2 separate regions of the Homo sapiens genome follow, and region 2 is linked to region 1. Evidence: fine-mapped expression QTL. A gene starts in region 1. The other region holds a variant in brackets. All regions are shown on one strand. Distances are between the middles of the regions. Region 1 holds the start of SFT2D3 (SFT2 domain containing 3). Region 2 overlaps WDR33 (WD repeat domain 33).

Evidence for each region. PIP is the estimated chance that this variant, and not a neighbour inherited with it, causes the effect.
Region 2: its variant is fine-mapped to the expression of SFT2D3 in whole blood (INTERVAL, PIP above 0.99).

What each region holds. Positions count from the first base shown.
Region 1 is chr2:127,693,744-127,704,945 of GRCh38, forward strand. SFT2D3 (SFT2 domain containing 3) reads left to right here and starts at 7,754. Exons shown (of 1, transcript NM_032740.4): 1 at 7,754-11,202. The coding sequence starts at 7,786. The coding sequence ends at 8,433. It overlaps WDR33 (WD repeat domain 33), which reads right to left. Exons shown (of 22, transcript NM_018383.5): 22 at 7,284-11,202. RefSeq lists enhancers at 6,276-7,475, 6,470-6,991, 6,703-7,072, 6,992-7,513 and a silencer at 7,833-8,512.
Region 2 is chr2:127,718,011-127,729,212 of GRCh38, forward strand. WDR33 (WD repeat domain 33) reads right to left here. Exons shown (of 22, transcript NM_018383.5): 8 at 8,641-8,767; 9 at 7,051-7,205; 10 at 6,877-6,955; 11 at 6,323-6,433; 12 at 5,243-5,337; 13 at 4,948-5,034; 14 at 4,581-4,720; 15 at 3,826-3,978; 16 at 1,255-2,343. Among named protein-coding and RNA genes, the nearest start is that of SFT2D3, 22 kb to the left of the region's middle. RefSeq lists an enhancer at 3,353-4,552. The variant CAAAT/C (reference allele first, on the strand shown) is at 6,060.

The DNA.
Region 1 (11,202 bases):
AAAAGTATAGTCTACTAAATTGTTATGAATTATAGATAACTTATGAGAAAAATAGAAAGGGGGAATTCCTTATCTAGCCAGATAATATTCAAATACAAAAGACTAGATGACAGTTCATTACAACAATAGTGCAACTGACAAGGAAATATGGTTGTTTCTGCATCCTGCAAAATGAGATAATAAAGTCAAAATTTTTTGACAAAATAATTATAAACATGATTAACCTCATTTTTTTTTTGAGATGGAGTCTCGCTCTGTCGCCCAGGCTGGAGCGCAGTGGCGCAATCTCACCTCACTGCAGCCTCTGCCTCCTGGGTTCAAGCAATTCTCCTGCCTCAGCCTCCCAAGTAGCTGGGATTACAGGCATGCACCACCACGCCCAGCAAATTTTTTTGTATTTTTAGTGGAGACCGGATTTCACCATATTTGCCAGGCTGGCCTCGAACTCCTGACCTTGTGATCCGCCCACCTCGGCCTCCCAAAGTGCTGGGATTACAGGCGTGAGTCACTGCGCCCGGCCCTTATTAACCTCATTTTCAAAGAATAGACAACAAGACAACAAGTGCTTTCAGGGACCCTCTGGGAAATTCAAAGAGTGTTTAGACATCAAAGCTATCCCAAATGAATGCCATTCTCAAAAATGACGTTCCAGGCAAAACCTGGGGAATTTTATCTTATTTTATTTTACATTAGGACTCAATATTGGGAAGGCAAAAAGCAAAGTTATCAAGAGATTTAACCACTTAAAATAGAAGTCAAATCATGAGAAACTATTTGGCTATTCATTTCAAACTGACAATAATTTCTGGTTTTTTTGTCTTTGTTTTTGTTTTAGACTGAGTCTCGCTCTGTCGCCAAGCTGGAGTGCAGTGGCGCGATCTCAGCTCACTGCAACCTCCACCTCCTTGGTTCAAGGGATTCTCCTGCCTCAGCCTCCGGAGTAGCTGGGACTACAGGCGCGCACCACCACGCCCAGCTAATTCTTGTATTTTTGGTAGAGACAGGGTTTCCGCATGTTGGCCAGGATGGTCTTGATCTCTTGACCTCGTGATCCGCCCACCTCGGCCTCCCAAAGTGCTGGGATTACAGGCGTGAGCCACTGCATCTGGCCATGACAATAAAGTATTTAAATGTTTATTTAAAATCAACAGAGAAGGAAAATAATTGTACAGAAATTAGCCCTTTCTAAATGAGTTTTTTCTTTCCTTTTTTTTTTTTTTTTTTTTTGATTTAGGGTCTCCCTCTGTCGCCCAGGCTGAAGTGCAGTGGTTAAGATCTAGGCTCACTGCAGCCTTGACTTCCCCAGCTCAAGCAACCCTCTCGCCTCAGCCTCTGCAGAAGCTGGGACCACAGGCGCGCGCCACTGTGCCCGGCTAATTTCTTGTATTTTTGTAGAGACGGGGTTTCATCATGTTGGCCAGGCTGGTCTTGAACTCCTGGGCTCATGACCTGCTGGCTTCAGCCTCCCAAAGTGCTGAGATTACAGGCGTGAGTCACTGCGCCTGGCCCATAGCTGTTTTTATTAAGCCAAAAATATTAACCCAGTCACATTTGTCTAAATAACAAGATTTTGAATTCTTAAAACATTTCTGAGTCAGTTTTTATGAAAATAATTTTCCTTTTTGACCATTAACATATTAGAAGTTACATTTCCCCAACTTCTGAAAAATTCGGGACTATTCCATTTATATAAGGTGCTTATTTATCTCTAAGGCTATCAGAACAGGGCCCCTTTAGCGATTTTAAATCTAATCTAGCGGGGTAGGGCTGCAGCCAAAAGCACGTGAGAGCGGCCCGCGGCCGGCGGGGTCCCGGGACAGGCCCGCGCGGGGCCGAGGTGCCAGGGCCCCCAGAGAGCGGGACGGGCGGTGCCAACTGGACAAGCCGACGCTACGAAGGCCTGAGGGACAGCGAGGCATCCTGGGAGGCGCCCTGGCTCAGACGCTCCTGTGGGAGGGCGTCTGCGTCCTCAGTTTCCCCAGGACGCGTAAGGAGAAAACCGGGGGAGGGCCCCGCACGCCGCTGCCCCCCCACGTCCAAGAGCCCGACCGTTCGCCCGCGCCCCTCGAGGAGTCTGCCCATCCCCAGCAGCACGCGAGCGCCGCCAGCGCTCCCTGGGCACCCGCTCGCACTCAAGTGCAGGCAGCGTGGTGACAATGCCAACTGCGCCCCCTATCTCTGACAGGCTCCAGAGGGGCAGTGGGAATACAGTAGCTACATGTGGCTATGATAAATATATATTAATAGTATATTATGTATGTTACATATAATAATGTGGGTACATTATGATGTTTTAAATATAATTCAATATAAATAATGAATTAACTAAAGTTAATTAAAATTTAAAATTCAGTTCCTCAGCTGCCCCGCAGGTGCAGAGGCTACATGTGGCTGCTGGTCACTGCCTTGGCCGGAGCACCTCCCTCAGTGCAGAAGCTCTATGAGCCAGTGGCCACGGAGAGGCTCTGCTGCCCCAAGGTCGGGGGGACAGGAGACATCATTTTGTGGCAAGTGCTTTGGCACTGTGCCTGAGGAAGATCACCAGGGCCAGGCGACCAACCCAGACAGTGACTGAGCCATGATGAATCAGCCTGGTGAGCCAACATTTGCCACAAAGCCTGAGCCACCCAACTTGAGGTCACCCGGAAAAGCCAAGGCAATGAAGACAGTGACAGGGGCTGGGAAGCAGGACTCAAAGAAATGAGACTTGAGAAGACCATCACCACGCAAGCAGTTAGGTATTCTTTTAAAAATTAGTAAATAAAAGAAGAAACTATAACTGCGAGACCAGCGCATACTGGGCCTACCTTGTTGATGACAGAATGTCGCATTGCTTTGTAGGTACAACAGAGCCAAAACTGCAAGCCATGTTGCCCAGGCATGCACAATGGAACAAGCTTTGACCTCTAACAATACCCAGAACCAATGACTCCTCCCCTCGGAACAAAGAAGACCAGGACAGGACTGGAACCTGAACATGGAAATCTTTCAGAAGCAGGGATGCGTCAGCCTGGGAGACTGGGGCCCAAATCTACCTTGACAAACCTTTCCATAAATCGTTAAATTTGAAGCCCGCCAATCAGACCCTGCCAAGCCAACACTGCTCAATCACTTCCCTTGCCCTCTGATCCCTTAAAGCTTACCCCAGACCTCAAACTGGGGAGACAGATTTGAGCCCCACTCCTGCCTCCTTGCTTGTCAGTTTTGCAATGAAACCTTTCTTTTCTCAAAAGCTGCTGCCAGTGTTACTGGTTTCGCTGTGCCTTGAGCAGTGAGCCCATTTGTTTGATAACAAAACTCCTCAAGGCATTGGCAATGTCACCAGTCAGTGACAGGGCTGTGTGGGCCCTGAGGACTGACCTGGAGGAAGGGGATGCTTGGGAGAGGGAGGGGAAGGAGCAGTAGACAGAGGTCCACCCAGCAGAGAGCCCAGGCTCAGCAAAGCCACAGAAGAAGGGAGTCTCCAAACTGCTAGGTCCAGAGGGACCCCACAGAGCATCGGGGAGAGCCACAGGGGCGTAAGGCAGGGCCTAGAAGGCTGGGTGGCAGGCAGGGAATTAGAATTTAATCTGTAGGAAATAAGGAGCCACTGAAGAATAGTAGATAAAGAGGACATTACTAGATTTCAGTTTTGAAAGGGGGCACTGGTGGGCCTGGTGCGGTAGCTCATGCCTGTAATCCCAGCACTTTGGGAGGCTGAGGTGGGCGGATCACTTGAGCTCTGAAGTTGGAGACCACCTGCACCATCTGTGGAAACCCCGTCTACAGGCAGGCGCCTGTAATCTCAGCTACTCCAGAGGCTGAGGTGGGAGAATCGCTTGAACCCGGGAGGCGGAGTTTGCAGTGAGCCAAGATCGCACCATTGCATTCCAGCCTGGGCAGCAGAGCAAGATCCTGTCTCAAAAATGAGGGGGTGGTTGGCGCTAGCTGACCCGCCACACTGAAGGAAGGGAGAATGTAGTTCAGGTTGCGGCCCGGCAGGGGACAAGTAAACCCAGCTGAACAGAGAGGGCCATGACAGACAGGGAAGGGAGGCAGACGCCACTCTGGAAAGCCCTCAAAAGAAGCGTGGATAACACTTGCTGGGCTCTGGGAGAAAATATAATTTCCTGCAAGTGGGAGAGGATTTGGTGCGAAGGGTGCTGCTTCCTCAGGTCAAGGTGAAAGACCTCGGCAGAAGAAAAGGCTGGCTGTGGCCCCTTCCCCTTGGGGAGGTGGGAGCTGGGACCTGCCTGACCTTATGCTAAAGTCCAACAATACTGGAAGGGAGGACGCGGGCATCTGAAGAGCCCCTGCCCAGGATGTGCAGATGCGGTGGCTGCGAGAGCTGAGGCCAGGCCCTGCCTGGTGCTGACACGGTGAAATCTAAAGCTCCTGAAAAGCCAGGCTTCTCCCCGTGGGGACAAGGCCATCGAGTACCACAGAGAAATAGGGTTTCAGAACAAGAAATTAAAAAAAAAATCCTTTCAGGGCCCTGCTGCATGTGTGTGAGTCTGGGTCCTTTGCATCTCCATCCACATCAACGTCCACTGTGAATGGAGCCCAGAAGGAAGGACAGGCTCAAAATGAAGGATCGGGAGGGAGGGAGGGCTCAGAAAGGCATTTGCCTGTTCTTAGACCACCCAGGAAACGAGTGTGCTACCGTCCATTATGCTTGTGAGTGGAAAGGGTGGAGGGTGATGGGAGCTGCTGCTTCGGGGAAGTCAGGGAAAGACATTTTGAAAAGTGACATTGAAGTAGAGACCTGAAGGAATGAGGGAGGGCGCTGTGAAGATATTTGGGGTGAGGAGGAATGCTCTAGGCCGAGAACAGCAAGGACAAAGGCACCGAAGTGGGAACATGTTTGACAGATCCAGAAACAACCCAAAGGCCACCAGTCATAGACTGGCATGGAGTGGGGAGAAAGCAGGGGAGTAGAGGCAGACAGGTCCCGGCCATTCCACAGGGCAGCGTGGGCGAGGTGAGGAAGTTGCTTCTGTGAGTGTGAGGTGGGGAGCACTGGGGGAGTGACATCATCTGACTCAGTGGACAAAGGTCCCTCAGGCCGATGTGTGAACAACCGTGAGGAAAGCATGGACCAAAACAGGGGCTCCGTGGTGGGGTGCAGGGGGGCGCCCAGATGTGGGGTTAGTGGTGGAGGAGAGAATCGGCTGGTACTGGATCTGTTTCCAAGGTAGAGCTGGTGGGACTTGCTGATGGGGTGCGATTTCTTGAGGTGCGGAAGGAGGGGTTAGCTACAGGTTTTGGGGGATGAGGAGGGGAAGTCAGGAGTGAAGTGTTTGGTTCTGCATGTCACCTCCAGGGTGTCTATTAGATGCCCGGTGGAGAAGTGGGGGACGCTCTGCACGCAGAGGGTTTTAACAACACGGGCTGGGCCAGAGGGTGCCGAGAGAGAAAAGAGGGGATATCCCAGGCGCAACAACGCTGAGGTCTCAGGAGGAGGAACAGTCAAGAGAGGAGCCCACGGTGCCGTCCTGGGGCTGAGGGCCGAAACTCACCGCACTAGCCGACAGCGTCTGGCGATTTTGTAATGAACAATTTTGCTGGCACGGTGGAACGAAGGCCTGGTTGAAGGGCTTCAAGGGAGACAGGGAAGCAAGTGAAGATGATTGTTAGGATGAGTTTTGCTGCAGTGCTAGAGGAGAGTGGGTTTTGTTAATGACCTTCCCTCCCTGCAACCAAACCACAGCAGAAAGCGCATCCAGGGCTCACACAGAGGGACCCTCAGTGAAGGCCTCTTTCTGCAATGGGAAGCCCACAAGGTTAGAAACCAGGAATCACAACCTAACGCTGCCCTATCGTCAGTTTTGTAGGTGACCTTGAGTAGGTTACCTCACTTCTTGGTATTTCTCAGCTTCCCTCACCTATAAAATGAGCAGCACACTCCTGCCTTTTCTATACGGTAGCTGCATAAATGATTAGGTAACATCACTGATGGGCATTTATGCACCCAGTCCACTTTCTAGCTCTGTGTATTTGACTACTCTAAGTACCTCACAGAAGTGGAATCATGCAGTATTGGTCCTTTTTGTGACTGGCTTATTTCCCTCAGCCTAATGTCCTCAAGGTTCATCCATGTCGTAGCATGTGTCAGAATCTCCTTCCTTTTTAAGGCTGCGTAACAGTCCGTTGTATGCATATATCACATTTTATTGATCTGCTGGTGGACACTTGGGTTGCTTCCATCTCTTGACTGACATGAATAGTTCTGCTGTGAAGAGTTATACAAATCTCTGAGACCCTGCTTTCAATTCTTTGGGGTATATATCCAGAGTGGAACTGCTGGATTGGATTGTAATTATATACACACATACACACATAACTGTATACAAATATGTGTGTATATACGTTTATATGTGTCTGTGTGTGTGTGTGTGTATATATATATATATATATTTTTTTTTTATAGTAACTTCCATACTGTTTTCCACAGCGGATATAGCATTTTACATTCCCACCAACGGTGCACAAGGCTTCTAGTTTCTCCACATCCTTGACAGCACTTGTAACTTTCTGGTGTGTTTTTGTTTTTTTGTTTTGATTGTAGCCATCCTAATGGTTTAGCCCATGCTAAGTGATCAGGCTGGTCACTATTATTATCAAGTGAGATAACAAATCAGAATATATTTTGAAAAAGAATTGCATCTGCCAGGATCCAACCAAGAAAACAGAAAGCATTAAAAGGAACTTAATGGGGGAGATTAGTTACACACAGGGGATGGAAAGGCTGAGAAGCCAAACAGCAGGAAGCCGTTAACCTTACATCCACCTAGGGCAGAGGACAAAGGACACAGGGCCACCCAGGGGAAGCCAAGGTGGTGAGGGGAGCTGTGGAGGCAGCTGGAAGAATCTGGAGGAATCTGACCTGTGAGAGGAACCACAAGCAAACACCCTCTAGGAGGCTCTGAGAAACAGCAGGGCACGTGGGTGCGGCCTGGGAACAGATCAGGATTGACCTGCGTGCGAGCCAGCTTGTCACAGTGATGTGACGATGAGTCAGGACACCTGGGCGTGGCGCTGTCCAGAGCACGAGAGTGACACCAAACACATGGGACAGCAGCACCGAGTCTTGGACAAGGGGCGCGAAGGAGTCAAGGATGTTGCCAGGCCTGTGGCCGAAACTGAGAACAGAATAGAGAAGCAGGTTGAGGGTGCTGGGTGTCAACCCTTCCTTTATCAACCCCATGGTAAATGATCAGGATGGTCACTATTACTACAAGTGAGGTAACTAATCAGAACGCAACTTTCCCCAAAAAACCCACCTGAGTTACACAGGTCTGAACTTTTTTAAAAATTAAATTTTTATTTTGAGATCACTGTTTGTGTTCAGTTGTAAGAAACAAGAGAGATTCTGTGTACCCTTTACCCATTCCTCCATGTTGCAAAACTAGCACAATATCACCGCCACGGTAGACGCAGTGAGGCCATAAGACATTTCCGTCAGCAAAAGGGTCACTTCTTGTGCCCCTTTAGAACCACACCCACCCCTGCCTTCCAACTATTAATGCTGGCAGGACTTAGCCAGACCGCAAGGGCGCCTACTCCGAACAAGGAAGAGGGTCAGGCGCTGGGAGGGCGACTGCAAGCGGACAGGCAGCACCTGCGACCACGGTACTTGGGGACACCACAAAAGTCCGCAGAGCAGGCACCGCGGCACTTCCGCGAGCGCCGCAGGCCCTGCCCCTTTCGCCGTCGCCGACCAATTGCCGCCCGAAGACCGAACCGCTTCAGCGGAGGGCCGGAAGTGAGCCGCAGCTTTTCCTTTCTGCCACCGCCTTGTCCAAGATGGCGGACCTCCACCGCCAGCTGCAGGAGTACCTGGCGCAGGGGAAAGCTGGCGGCCCGGCGGCCGCGGAGCCGCTGCTCGCCGCGGAGAAGGCGGAGGAGCCCGGGGACCGGCCGGCGGAGGAGTGGCTGGGCCGCGCGGGCTTGCGCTGGACGTGGGCGCGGAGCCCTGCGGAGTCGGCAGCGGCCGGCCTGACGTGCCTCCCGAGCGTGACGCGCGGGCAGCGGCTGGCGGCGGGCGGCGGGTGCCTGCTGCTGGCTGCACTGTGTTTCGGCCTAGCCGCGCTCTACGCACCGGTGTTGCTGCTGCGCGCGCGCAAGTTCGCGCTGCTCTGGTCACTGGGCTCGGCGCTGGCGTTGGCGGGAAGCGCGCTGCTGCGGGGCGGCGCGGCGTGCGGACGCCTGCTGCGCTGCGAAGAAGCGCCGTCCCGGCCCGCGCTGCTCTACATGGCAGCGCTGGGCGCCACGCTGTTCGCCGCGCTGGGCCTTCGCAGCACGCTGCTCACGGTGCTGGGCGCGGGCGCGCAGGTGGCCGCGCTGCTGGCCGCGCTGGTTGGGCTGCTGCCCTGGGGCGGCGGCACCGCGCTGCGCCTCGCACTGGGTCGCCTGGGCCGCGGCGCCGGCCTCGCCAAGGTGCTGCCCGTGTGAGGACCTCGCGCCCTCGCCGCTGGGGAAGTACGCGGAGCCAGCGCCGTCGGAGACCGCGCCGGCCGAGCTGAGGACTGCACGCCGCTGTGCGGAAGCCCGTGGCGAAGGCCCTGCCCTAACAGCCTGCGAGTCTAATCCGGGAGCGGCTGCTGCCAGCGGAGGCGACAGCAGCGTTGGGAGCTCCTCGATGTCAGCTTTTTGTGCTGGACTTGGCACACGCTCTGAAAACTGAGATTTTGTCATTGAACTGGTGACAGGATGTGAGACGGTTATTAGAAGTTGCTTTCGAAGTAACTGTGGTCTTAGGTTCGGCTGAGTAAAGAAAAAGGATTTTTCTTCGAGTTAGCTGCTCTTGTGATTTTTCTCAGGCTGTTTTGTCATTTTAAAATCCAGTGGTAGATGTAGCTTAGCGACGGTAGTTTTTTGTTTTGGCTATACTAAGACTTGGAAATTATTCTCTCCAGTGTCAGCGAATCCAGAAGGGTATCAGATTAAACACCGAATTCAGCCACTGGACTTTTAAAAGTACTTAAGATGGTTTATCTCGGGTTTTTTCTTCAGTTAACAAAATCATAAATATGGTGCCTTATAACATGAAAGGAAAATTAGTTGTGTATTTCACGACGAAAGCGACGGACCAAAAGAAATTTCCTGCCCCAAGAAGCATGGGATCCAGGAAGGGGCGCGTAGATGCTTAACGGTCTCTTCGGAAATCCTGCAAATAGAAAGATAATTCTAGATCCGGAATACCTGTATCTGGTGGAAACCATGGATTTCTACAAGCTCGAATTATTCCTCATTGTATAGCCTGCTTTGTAAACTAGTTTACAATTTGCAGGCTGATCTTAAGATTTTTTTATATCTAATTGCTGCTGCCTTCATTTTAGGTTCAGCAGTTACTTTTAACTACCTTAATTTATTGCCAGAAGGTATGAGCCTAACATTCTGATGAGTCCAGAAAACTACGTTTTGTCAGTAGCAATACACTAGGAAGTAAAATATATTTAGAATTTAAACATTGTGTGCCAGTGGTCCTCGCGCTTGACTGCACATCAGTTACTTGAAGAGCCACACCTCAGATCAATGCAGTCAGAACCTGGGAAGTAGGTCCCAGACATCAGGACCTTTTTAAAGCTCCCCAAGTGATTCTACGTTCCCCAAGTTTGAGGACCACTTTTCTGTGCATTGGCTTGCACAATTTGAAAGTAATGCTTTTCCTGAGCTGGATCCCAGTGTTGCCTTAACAGGGTGTCTGTCGTGCCGCAGTAGAGCACTGCTGCTTCCTCCAACCCCAAAATTTATGTTCCTAAGTAAGTCAGGTCCCTAAGCCCCGTCCCAAGAAGTGACACAAGTGGCCAACATCCACACTGTAGGCTTGCAGGCTACCCGCCCTGAGATTTGGTAAAGAACACTGCCTTGTTCCCCATCAGTAAACAAGGTTACCTACCTCAGGAGGCTGCTTGTGAGAGAGCAAATGCAGTATCTTCAGAATGATTTATTTTTTTAATTAATTGTAAAGACTTGTGCCATTGGCTGCTCTTTCTAGTCCCCTAAATTTCTGTTCTAGTTTTAAATTTCTCTAGAACTTGCAATAGTTGGGGGTTTTATAATGATGTTTTACAATGTTTATTTCTTAAATAAAAACTTAAAAATTCAACATTTCTCAGCTGGTGGCTCACACCTGTAATCCCAGCATTTTGGGAGGCCAAGGCGGGAGGATCACTTGAGGCCAGGAGTTCAAGACCAGCCTGGGCAACACAGTTAAACCCCATCGCCACAGAAAATCTTCAAAAAATTTGCCAGATATGGTGGCACACAACTGTGATCCCAGCTACTTGGGGTGGGGCTGAGGTGGGAAGATCACTTGAGCCCAGGAGGTTGAGGCTGCAGTGAACTGTGATCACACCACTGCACCACAGCCTAGGCAACAGCGAGACCTTGTCTCAAAAATTTTTTCTCAAATCAAACATCATTGAAAATCTACTTTTTATAAGCTTCAAATCACAACATCTAGTATGTATGCTGACAGTGATGTTTTTAAATGCCATATATATTTAATAAGTATAATGTAGAGGTTTATTGTTTAAATGAATTCACTCTCAAAATGTGATCTGTCAAGTCCAGTAGAGCTTCAAGGTAAAATGAAAATTTTTAAATGTGATCTGGTTATCTGCTTACTGAGATACTATGTTTCTAAAGTTAAAGCCCAAAATAATGAAAATTTTTCCACTAGAATCTCAGGGAAAAAAAGTCTAATCTTGATATGGGTTTGGTCTCTGGATCCGGTTTTAGCTTCATGAAATTTGATTACAGTTTCTCTCTCTTTAAGCTATACCAGTTGGGGGTGAGTGAAGAAATACCCATAACCTAAAGCAATCTTGAGCCTCCTAATAGCATGTTTATGGTGGAGCGCTGATTAAATAAGCTGTAATTTCAAAGTTAAAAAAAAAATAGTCTCTAGATTCTAACACTGAAAAGCAGTGTATATGGCTGACATTTTCTCACTCCACAGAAATCAATTAGCTTTTGCTGTTTTTTACATTCATAGAGAACCAGTTAAATTTTCATATCCTGTTAAACTATATCAGTATGCCTTTTCTAAGCAACCATTGAAACTTCCAGCACCAGCGGCCAGGTACTGTGGCTCAGATCTGCAATCCCAGCACTTTGGGAGGCCACAGCAGGTGGACCGCTTGAGCCCAGGAGTTTGAAACCAGCATAGACAAAGTGGTGAAACTCCATCTCTACAAAAAACACACACACAAAAAA
Region 2 (11,202 bases), 24 kb after region 1:
TTCAAGTTTTAGGGCAATTTAGAATGGCAATCCTATACTTAATTCATCCTAACTTCTGAGAAGTGCTGAATAAAAATCTGGAAATAACTCAGACATCATCAGATTCTCCATGACTACGACACTTTTAGGTTCTGGAAGACCTACTTTAGAATAGTAGATAATTTATTTGTTTTAGCTTAGTAGTTGAGTTCAGGAAACCCAATGGTCATCTTTACATTAGGGATTCGTGGTGGTATTTGAAAAACCAAAACAGACTGTGCTTTCTACATCTGTAGCATCCCCTTTCTCCAAGTGTCTCAGGGAGTCAACATTAGCTGACTCGCTCACTTTTGGTCCACACTGGACCAAAAGTGAGTTTTCAGGGACAAAACTCAGTTATTCATACCCAAATAATGCCTCCAGACTAAGAACTTGAGAAAAGCATAAAATGCACATAGCTGAGCAGTATTACATCTATTTATGCTCATGCAATTCTTTTCGTAATTCACTCCCCCAAGCAACCTGAACTTTCCTCACACCATCTCTCAAGCACGAGCTCAGCGCATGAGCAATAAAAATTGGCTAACAAAAACAGAATCCTCAAAGAAGGAGAATTTCTACAGAAATGCTCCCCCCTGCAAATACTTTTATATGTGAGCTGAAAACAACTTGAGCAGAGTTTCATCCAAAGGGTCACCATTTCCAGAATGCTCAATTCTGGAATAACAGTCTCTTTATTTCTATTCACTGTAATAAACAGAGTGAGGTACAGAGTCTATAGTATACTCATGAGTTAAATATCCCATCCTATCTTTTAAAAGTAGAGTTGGCAGACAGGAAGTGATTCTGTGGCTGGCAGGCCCATGGAACACCAGGCTGCAATGTAAAGGGCCCAGAAAGGAGGCATGACAGCCTCAGAGCCGACCACCATGTAAAACATGCTTCCTCCTCAGGGCCACAGCTCTCCTGGAGCCCTGGGACAATTATCAGCTGTACTCAAATGAGAGTTGACCTTTTCTGAAGAAACTCTATTACCAAAAAAAGAAAAATGGTGAGAAGTAAAAATGAATACTGAGATGTACTTAATGGGAGTATAACCTAACTCATCATTCTTATGATTTCATTCTTCAGCCAGGATGCTAGTATCTTAAGCTACTGTCACTACTTGATAAGTATTTATATCCAGCTGTGACCATTTTCCACAATACTCAGCAGTATTACTTCTGTGCAGAGTGTATTTTCCCAATGTGCCCGTGAGTTGGAAATGAATAATACCTGGTTGAAGGGGGCCCGGGGCCCATCACCTAGCAGAGGCGTTTTCTGTTGCTGGAATGGTATTGGCCCTTGAGATGGATGTGGCCCTCTTGCTGGGTTCTGCTGTCCCTGAGGTCCGGGGGGTCCTTGCATGCCACCCTGGGGTGGAGGTCCTAAAGAGCCCTGGGGCGGCCCCTGCTGACTTTGTGAGCCTGGAGGCCCTCGCAATTCCTGGGGAGGTCCCAGCATTGATCCTTGGGGTGGAGGCCCCTGCATGCCTCGGATCTCCTGAGGACCTCTCATTTCCTGAGGGCCGTGTCCCAGTAGTCCACCTGGAGGGTGAGGTCCTCTCATCTCTTGAGGCGGGTGGCCCATAATCATCCCTTGGGGAGCAGGACCCTGGTTCTCCCGGGGGCCTGGAGGCCCCTGCATTCCTCTTGGATTCAATCCCATCAGAGGTCCCTGAGACACAGGACCTTGGATCCCTTGAGACCCTGGTCCGCCTTGGATCCCATGAGGATGAGGAGGCCCTTGCATTCCTCTGGGACCAGGTGGTCCCTGCATACCTTGAGTACCCGGAGGCCCCTGTGGGCCCAAGTGACCCTGAGGGCCAGGCGGGCCTTGGGGGCCTATGTGACCCTGTGGGCCAGGTGGACCCTGAGGACCCATATGACCTTGAGGACCAGAACTACCTTGTGGTCCAGGTGGCCCTTGAGGTCCCAAAGGGCCATGAGGTCCAGGATGCCTCTGCATTCCTTGGGGCCCATGCATGTCCTGAGGCCGTGGCAACCCCTGGGGCGGGCCCTGGGGCCCCTGTGGTCCCATGAATCCTTGTGGCCCCCCACCTCCCTGATGCAGTGGAGGACCTTGTGGTCCCATTTGTCCCTGGGGTCCAGGAGGCCTAAACTGTCCCTGTGGACCTGGAGGCCCCATTTGAGCCATGTTCATTGGCATCTGCTGAGATGGATGGGGCTGTTGAAAACCTTGAGGAATCTGAGACATTGGACCTTGTCCTGGAAAAGGCTGGGGTCCGAGGAGAGGGGTGCCAGATGAGGGAGGAGGCTGAATTTGCTCAACTTGTTTCTGTGCAAGTCTTTCAATTTTAAGTTGCTGGAAAGAAAGAAAGAAAAAAGCATGTTGAATAAACAGGCCAGAGCCCTTGAAGATGACAATATTGCTATCATGTATTCTGTTAGGGGACTCTCAAACATAAAAACTGCTCAAACTCTTCACGCTCCAGTGGTAATTAGAGTCCATGCAACACTCAAGCACTGTAAGGAGTTTTAGGTTCTTTCTCATTCTTTTTAAGTCCTGGGACACAGTAGTAAGGATTTTTTTTTCCTTATTTTTTTTTTCTGTCCCCCAAGCTGGAATGCAGTGGTACGATCGTGGTTCACTACAGCCTCACCCTCCTGGGCTCAAGTGATCCTCCCACCTCGGCCTCCGGAGTAGCTGGGACTACAGGCACATGCCACCACACCCAGCTAATTATTATTTGTAGAGACAGGGTCTTGCTATATTGCCCAGGCTGATCTCAAACTCCTGGGTTCAGCTGATCCTCCCGCCTCGCCTCCCAAAGTGCTGGGATTACAGGCGTGAGCCACTGTGCCTGGCCTAGTCAGGATTATTTTTGTCCATCTTGATCAGGGAAAGCCCAATAATTCACCACTAATTCATCATTCTTGGTAGCTAACATAGATAAGAAAAATAAGAACAAGCTACCTGCTATATGAGCAGACAAAAAGGAAAAACTCTTTCATAAACAGGTGAATTCAAATTAAAACTATGTTGGCTTTATCTTTTCTATTAAAAATGTATATTTAACTTAGATCTACTCACTGCCCCACTAATTCAGTTTTTTTATGTTGTTGTTGTTGTTTTTGAGACAGAGTCTCACTTTGTGGCACAGGCTGGAGTGCAGTGGTACGATCTCGGCTCACTGAAACTTCTGCCTCTGGAGTTCAAGCCATTTTCCTGCCTCAGCCGCCCATGTCACTGGGACCACAGGCATGCACCACCATGCCCAGCTAATTTTTGTATTTTCAGTAGAGGTGGGGTTTCACCATGTTGACCATGCTGGTCTCAAACTCCTGATCTCAGGTGATCTGTCTGCCTCGGCCTCCCAAAGTGCTGGGATTACAGGTGTAAGCCACCACGCCTGACCCTAATTGGGTTTTAAAAGTCCAAGATATGACTCAAGGAAGTCACTTAAAAAAAAATTAGTCAGACGTGATGGTGCATGCCTGTGGTCTCTGCCACTCAAGAGGCTTAATGTGGGAAGATCACTTGAGCCTGGGAGGCAGAGGTTGTAGCAAGCCGTGATCGCACCACTGCATTCCAGCCTGGGTGACAGGGCATGACTCTGTCTCTAAAATAAAATAAATAAAACAAAATACATAAATAACACATTTTAAAAAATTTTAAGAAACAGGATTCTTTTGGAAACTAGTCTTCTAGCATAGCAACAGGAAATGGCGGTGTTTGTCAGACCATGGGAGAGCCCCTTCCCTTTTCCTTAAGAGCCTATCAATAAAAATGTCACCACTACCCTCTTAGATCATCTTGAATTCCCCCCTACAGAGCTTCACACACCTCCAGAAGTTGTGGGTTAGTATATTGTAATGTAGCCATTTCTTGCTCAATTTCTGCTTGTGTTTTTTTCTTCTCTTCCAATTTAATGTCTTCTTTTCTGTCATTCAGCACCTCATTTGGAGCAGGAATTGGAACTTTATTTTGCATCCAAGCCTTGGGAAAGAAGAGAATATTAAAATGTACGCTAAGTATGAAAATTACAATGATAGAATGAGAAAACCACTCTACAATGTCATCTGCTCAATCTAACCTCTGAACCGATTTTATTTCTTTTTACCTTTTCTCCATGACTCAAGTACATGACTCATGCTAATTCTTACTGACATATTACTAGGTAGAAATTACTATGGTGATAAAAGCTGCAAGACACTGCATGTTATTAAGAATGCAAAGCTTGCCAGCCTCTTCACAGGGTACATGCACTTTGTGTTGAGGGGACAATTAAAGCACAAGATAGATAAACAATGGAGAAGAGAAGCAACATACTCCCATACTCCCTCTGCTCCATGCCTCTTTCTTCTATTTCCTCTCATAGCATGGATGATAATAAGCAGGTGAGGACAGAACAGAGAAGACTGATAACAAACTCAATACAACTGCAAAGCAGTAGATGAGAACCATGTCTAAGAGTACGTGAACATGGGAAAAATGCTCCAGTACAGAAACACCTTCAACAGTGAGATAATCCAAGAGAAACCTCAAACTAACCAACCAAAACCTCTCTGCGTGGATGAGGTGGAGTCACTTTTACTTACCTGCTGGAACTGAGCAGGAATGGGTTTTGCATAAGGAACTTTCTTCTGAGGTACTTTTTTCTGATCCTTTTGCATCACTTCCTCCATTCCCCAATCTAAACCTGGAATTGTCATTTCAATTTCATTTGATTCATCTTTCCCTGTAACCGTAAAGAAAAGTGGTTTGCCTCTTAAATAAAAGAAATTGGCCACTTGATCAATGAACACATTATTGGAAGAATAGATTTTAAGTATTATGTCATTTATATAATTTTTATCAACATTTCTCAACATAAATCATTTTGGTATTTCAATATATTTATCAGGAACATAAACGGGTCAAGAAAAAATTTGTAAAAATTAAATGTGTCTGTGTAACTTCTCTTACCCATCTGTTCTTGTTCCATAGCTAATTTTAGTTGTTCTGGTATTCCCATTCCTGGAATTACTGCCAGGCTATTAGGTTCGAGGTCATCTATAAATAGTAATACACCATTGTCAATAGAGAATTTACAAAAGTAGCGACTGATAAAATTAATGCTTTATAAAAATGAATGTCACTGATGATTTATAAATAAATCTACTATAAAATTAAAATTCATTTTGTATAATCTTCCCAACATCTAACACTTCTGTAATAGAATACCAGATTTCAAAGAAGGACAGATGTGCAAGAGTCTCACCATATTCTACTCCATCTTCAGACATTCCAGGTAAAAGGTTTAGATTATATCGATCTCGCATTTTATCACCTGGTCGGTTTCGAGTCCAGAATTTGCTGTAAAAATAATTAAAGGAGAAAAGAAGCATGGCTTCACTATTTTTTTGGGCACTAAACAGTACTAGGCAGACCCTTGGTAAACACAACACATTTTTACAATTTGTTTCTTCTACAAATTTAAAATGTGAGGTCATACACTTTGGCTCACATCTGTAATCCCAGCACTTTGGGAGGCTGTGGCAGGAGGATTAAGTCCAGGAGTCCAAGACCAGCCTGGGCAACATAGCGAAACCCTGTCTCTACAAAATAAAAATTAAAAAGTTAGCTGGGTGTGGTGGCACACACCTGTAGTCTCAGCTACTCACGAGGATAAGGCGGGAAGATGGCTTGAGCCCAGGAGTTTGAGGCTACAGTGAGCTGTGATCTCACCACAGAACTCTAGTCTCGGTGACAGAGTGAGACTCTGTCTCTTAAAATAATAATAAAAATAAAAATAAAATGTGGGGCCGGGCAAGGTGGCTCATGCCTGTAATCCCAGCACCTTGGGAGGCTGAGGCAGGAGGATTGCCTAAGCCCAGGAGTTTGACATCAGCCTGGGCAACATGGTGAAACCCCATCTCTACAAAAAATGCAAAAATTAGCCAGGTGTGGTGGTGTGCTCCTATAGTCTCAGCTACTCAGGAGGCTGAGGTAGGAGGATCACCTGAGCCCAGGAAGGTTGAGGCTATAGTGAGCTGAGACCGCACCATTGCACGCCAGCCTGGACAGAGACCCTGTCT[CAAAT/C]AAATAAATAAATAAATAAATAAAAGTGGAAAACTTCTGTTTTAAGTCAGAAGGCAAAACAAAATTTGAATAGCCAAAACCATATTCAATACCCAATCTCTTTATTGCAATATAAGTATTTGTAAACCACTACAAAAATATTCCCAAGAATAAGTTGGAATATAAATTACTATATCAATCAACCAATAAAAATAAACACATACAGTATTTATTTCCTGTTGCTCCATATAAAGCTTTGCTATTTCAATATAAAGCTTACCTAGTATGGTCATTTGAGCCTGAGCAGAGAATATGCCCAAGAGGATGCCAAGCCAGACTCCAGATCATCCCTTCGTGAGCCATCTCCATCCCACCCACTTCCTTCTCTACCCTGCAACAGCACCAAAGAGAGAAGATTTGTTCACAAAAGTTACCCAGCTTCTCCCTCCCCCTCAAAAAAGACATTTTCTGTTACTCTTAAAATGAAGCTACCAAAGCCTGGACTTGGACTCTGGTGAATTCCACATGTCTCGGGGTATTGGCTTGTCATTGCCAAAGGACAGTTACCCTTTCATCCAAAGAGCACTTCACAGGGGAAAAGGCTGCAAGCATTTAGAAACTAGAAAATCTATTTTATTCCTCCTTAATGACTTCCATATCCACAAACAGAGGTACATTTTCTATTCCAAGCTGGATTTACAGAACTGAAAACTGCAAGCAGTCTCTGATATAGGATATATGAACACTTAGAAAAGCTACAAAACTATCATGTCTGCACACATTCACGTGCTCTCTTCACAAAATACACTACTTTTTCACATAAATCTTACATACCCAACATGCCAGAATAACAAAGAACCATCAGACCCTCCACTGGCAAAAAGTCCTTCATGAACAGGATGCCAGGCCACAGCTGCAGAACAAAAACATGGGAAAAGACACAATTATCAGGATCTGAGAATGTTACAGGTAACAGTGGTCAATGAGAAGCATATCACAGCCACTGACCTGTGGCTTCTTTCTTATGACCTCGGAAGACTTGAAGCTCTTCTTTTAGGTTTCTGATATCAAAAAGTTTACAGAGATGATCACGTGATGCTGTGAGTAGCCAATTGCCATTGAGGTTTAATTTCACTTCCATTACTGTGTTTTTATGGGCATGACTAGAAACAAAGTATCAAAAAAAAATGTCAGAATTCAAAACAAGTATAAATACAATGGCCATTTTTGTTGAAAAGCGAATTAATCAAGATGGCAAGAGGTTTGGCCTAGAAGCAATAAAGCCTGTAACATTAAAGGATCACAGTTATAAACACACTTGAAAGAAACAAGTCAACGACAGAAATAATATGCACTGCCCAGACAAAGACAGCTCTCATCAACCAGTTAAAAAAGCAGCAGAGGCTGGGCGTGATGGCTCACGCCTGTAATCCCAGCACTTTGGGAAGCCTAGGCGAGTGGATCACCTGAGGTCAGTTCAAGACCAGCCTGGCCAACATGGTGAAACCCAGACTCTACTAAAAATACAAAAATTAGCCAGGCGTGATGGCGCATGCCTGTAGTCCCAGCTACTCAGGAGGCTGAGGCAGGAGAATCACTTGAACCCAGGAGGCAGAGGTTGCAGTGAGCCGAGATTGCACCAATGCACTCTAGTCTGGGTGACAGAGCGAGACTCTGTCTCAAAATAATAATAATAATAATAATAATAATAATAATAATAATAATAATACAGTAGCAGAGCTTCCACTGAACAGTAAAATTTATCCGTGAAGCAGGGGAAGCACATGAACACAGAAATTAATATTCAATAAAGCTCATTACATTTTGAAACTTCCATAAAGTTTCTCTAATTAAGACAAAGCATAAAAATGGACTGGAAAGTCTGAAAGTTAATTTGAACTAAAGACAATGCAACAACCCCTGGCCTGCACAATGGATATCTCCAAGGGAGCATTCACAAGGCATTCCAGGTTGGCATGGTCATTGGGGTTGTACAACAAAGCAGCCTTGCTCCAACCAATTCACTCTGAATATGGTTCTCTTCCCAATCAGAAAGACCAGGAAATGGATGCTTGGTCAAAAAAATGTTAACATATGCATGTAGCTGTGAATGTTCACAAATAACTGAAAGAGAAAACTAGATTACATAGCTGCATCGTAAGTAAGCCCATCAGACAAAAAATGAGAAGTGGTTCAAAACCAGAAGAAAACCCTCTCGAAACAGATGTTGTGAGATGGAGAAGGCTGGGCCGTGTCTAGTAAGGGGCACACACGTCAACTCCTCACAGTGCCACAAGGTATTCTGATGACAGGCAATAGGCTAGAATAGTAACCACCTCCCTCCTCATCCTCCTCCCCACCCGTATATAACAACCAAATTAAACTTAGGTCTATGTGGCAGGACAAAAACAAGCCTTACTTCATTAAGAGTTCAGAGATGAATCATATTTAATTCATAAGAAGTCTATAGATCCAAGTCCATCTGTTGCCTAAATGACTCTTCCAGAAATACATAAGAGAAAACAAAGCTAAAAGTTAAAGGACACACTGCTTTGCTCCCCTTTGTTCAGGGGCCAAGGTGGGGTTCCTGTCACTTACAGTGTTGCAAGACTCTGCCCAGTCTTGGGATCCCAGAACTTGATTGGCTGTTGACTATCTTTACTTCCTGAAACAACTAACCCTTTGGTTGGATGCCAGTCTACACATTTCACATCAGCACCATGCCCTGTCGGAAACAAGTTAGGATTAAAACCTAATTAGTTACATGCATTTAAAGCAATTTAAACCAAAGTAGAGAAACCTAGTAAATGTTTTGCTCTCAGTGCTCAGTCAACTTAAAACTTGTTTTGTGAAGACTCTTTGGCCTCTGTGTGTCTGGAAATTTTTCAGATACAGTATCCTCTCCTCCTATGTCAAGACACACAGGAGCCAGTCCTCTCCTGGACCCAAGTGCATCTTCTCACCTACTTGCCGGGAGGTCAGTCGAGGCTTTTGGAGGCTGCACCCCTCAAGACCCCATTATGTAAAGATTTTGAAGTGTCTCATGTTGTTCCCGATTACCCTGATTATAGGGCACAATCCCTGTCACTCACTTCAGTTGTCCCACTTTGTGATAGTTCTTACAGACGAACTTGATTCAACCTGAATTTAGGACTTTGGGACCACCATTTAGGAATTTAGGACACCACTTTCTAGATGGAATGACAGGAAAAGCCAGCTTTCAGCTCCTGTTTACTGAAATGCAGGAGAAATACACTCTGCTTGATTCGCACATGTTGTGACAGTTAGATGAGGTAATAATAACAGCTATCCTACTGCAGGCCTGCTATATTTTAGGCAGTGTAATGAGCACTTATAAGCATCATCTTTTTAAATCTTCACAAAATCCTGAGGAAAGTATTAGCATTATCTCCATTTTACAAGTGAAGAAACAGAAGGGCTGGAAGGGTTAAATAACACATCCTAGATCCCAAAGCCAGTCAGCAAGAACAGGAGAGAGTCCCTGAGCCTGGTCCATGGGATTCCAAGGATGGTTACTTCAGTAACCACCGTGCTAGAGCATTAGCTCACTTCACAAGTGTAATAGATTAACTTACTAAAAGTCATAAACGTGAAAGTCAATTTGTAAATTTGAAAAAAATGGATATGATTTTTGAAAAACTGGATGCTGTACAAAGCCCCAAGGATATTTTACATAACAAATAAACTAAGAAGCAGATGAGGAGTGAGGAAGAACATTCAGAGCTTCCTTCTCTACCCTGGATCAAATCCAGCTTCTGTGAAGTTCTGAGGTGGAAACAAGGAAGGATACAGAAGAATACAGACAAAGGGAAGTGAAGTGGGAAAGAAGAGACGGGGTAGAGGCACCGACAGTGATTTGTACCCGTTCATAAGGGGAGACAATTTGGGTCTCAAATGGACATAGGTTTATCCCAACACAATACCCCGTACTGGCAAGCATGTAGGGAGGTGACAACAATCTGGAGAACAGTTTGGCTGTATGTATCAAAAGTATGAGAAAGTACATCTCCTACAACCCAATAATCTCATGTCTTAGATTTTATCATTAGGAAATAATGGATGTGCAAAGGGATTTATCTGCAAGGACATTTACTGACACAATTTGTTTTTAATAGAACACAAATATATTACAAAATAAATTGCAGTGTGGCATATGTACTTAAAGGAATGTGATGCACCTATTATAAATGACCCTATAGATGATTTAATGGCATGATTAAAATGTTCATAATTTATTTTAAAAAAATACACCAGTGTATACCATCACTGTAAAAGGCAAACAGTCAATAACATGAGTGACTGTGTGAGCTTATCTAAATTAAAGAAAAAAGCCAAGAAGTCTAGACACCGAATTGTTAACAGAAATAATATTAAGCTGGAAGGTGGTATTGATTCTCTCTCCCCATGTTTATTCTATATTTTTATATTTTCTACAATGAACATATTTTGTAACTGGGTGGGAAGGGGGAAGAGAGGTTTTGCTGTTGCTTTGTCTTTTAAAAAGAAAAATAACTGAAGATGGAATAATTGAAATATAAAAATACTTCAGTCCCCCTTGCCCCTTGTTTGCCTTAAGAAATTTTAATTAACTATTTGCCCCTGAAAAGGTAGGGAATTTTAAAACTCTATGGGCCATTGTCACCTAAAAATAAATATTATGTATAGCTATGTATGCATTAATCAATCAAATTTGGGATTATGAGAAATGCCTGAGAAAGCAGTTTCAAATTACAATGTACAATATGAAAAGTTCATATTCTTAACAGCCGTCTCTATCTACCCTCATCTTCTCTGGGACACGTTTATTACATAAAGAACGTATGTCTGTTTAGTTTTAAGGTATGTTTAAAGAAGCATACGTAAAAACAAAAAAACTATGAACCCAAAAGGAACCACAAAATAAACTTCAGCTGCTTTGCTTTCTAATGTTCTCTAAAATTTATTAAAGTAAAATTCAAGCAAGTGAGGAATCTCATGAATTTACCCATATCCATACACATCTCAAATATAAATCAAACTGATTGGTCCTGATTCTTGGATGTAATTTTATTCATCGCTGTTCTTAATAAAACGAATACTAGCAAGCACAAATACTTATGTATAGCGTTATTCTAAGCGAAGTATGTGTAGCGACTCATT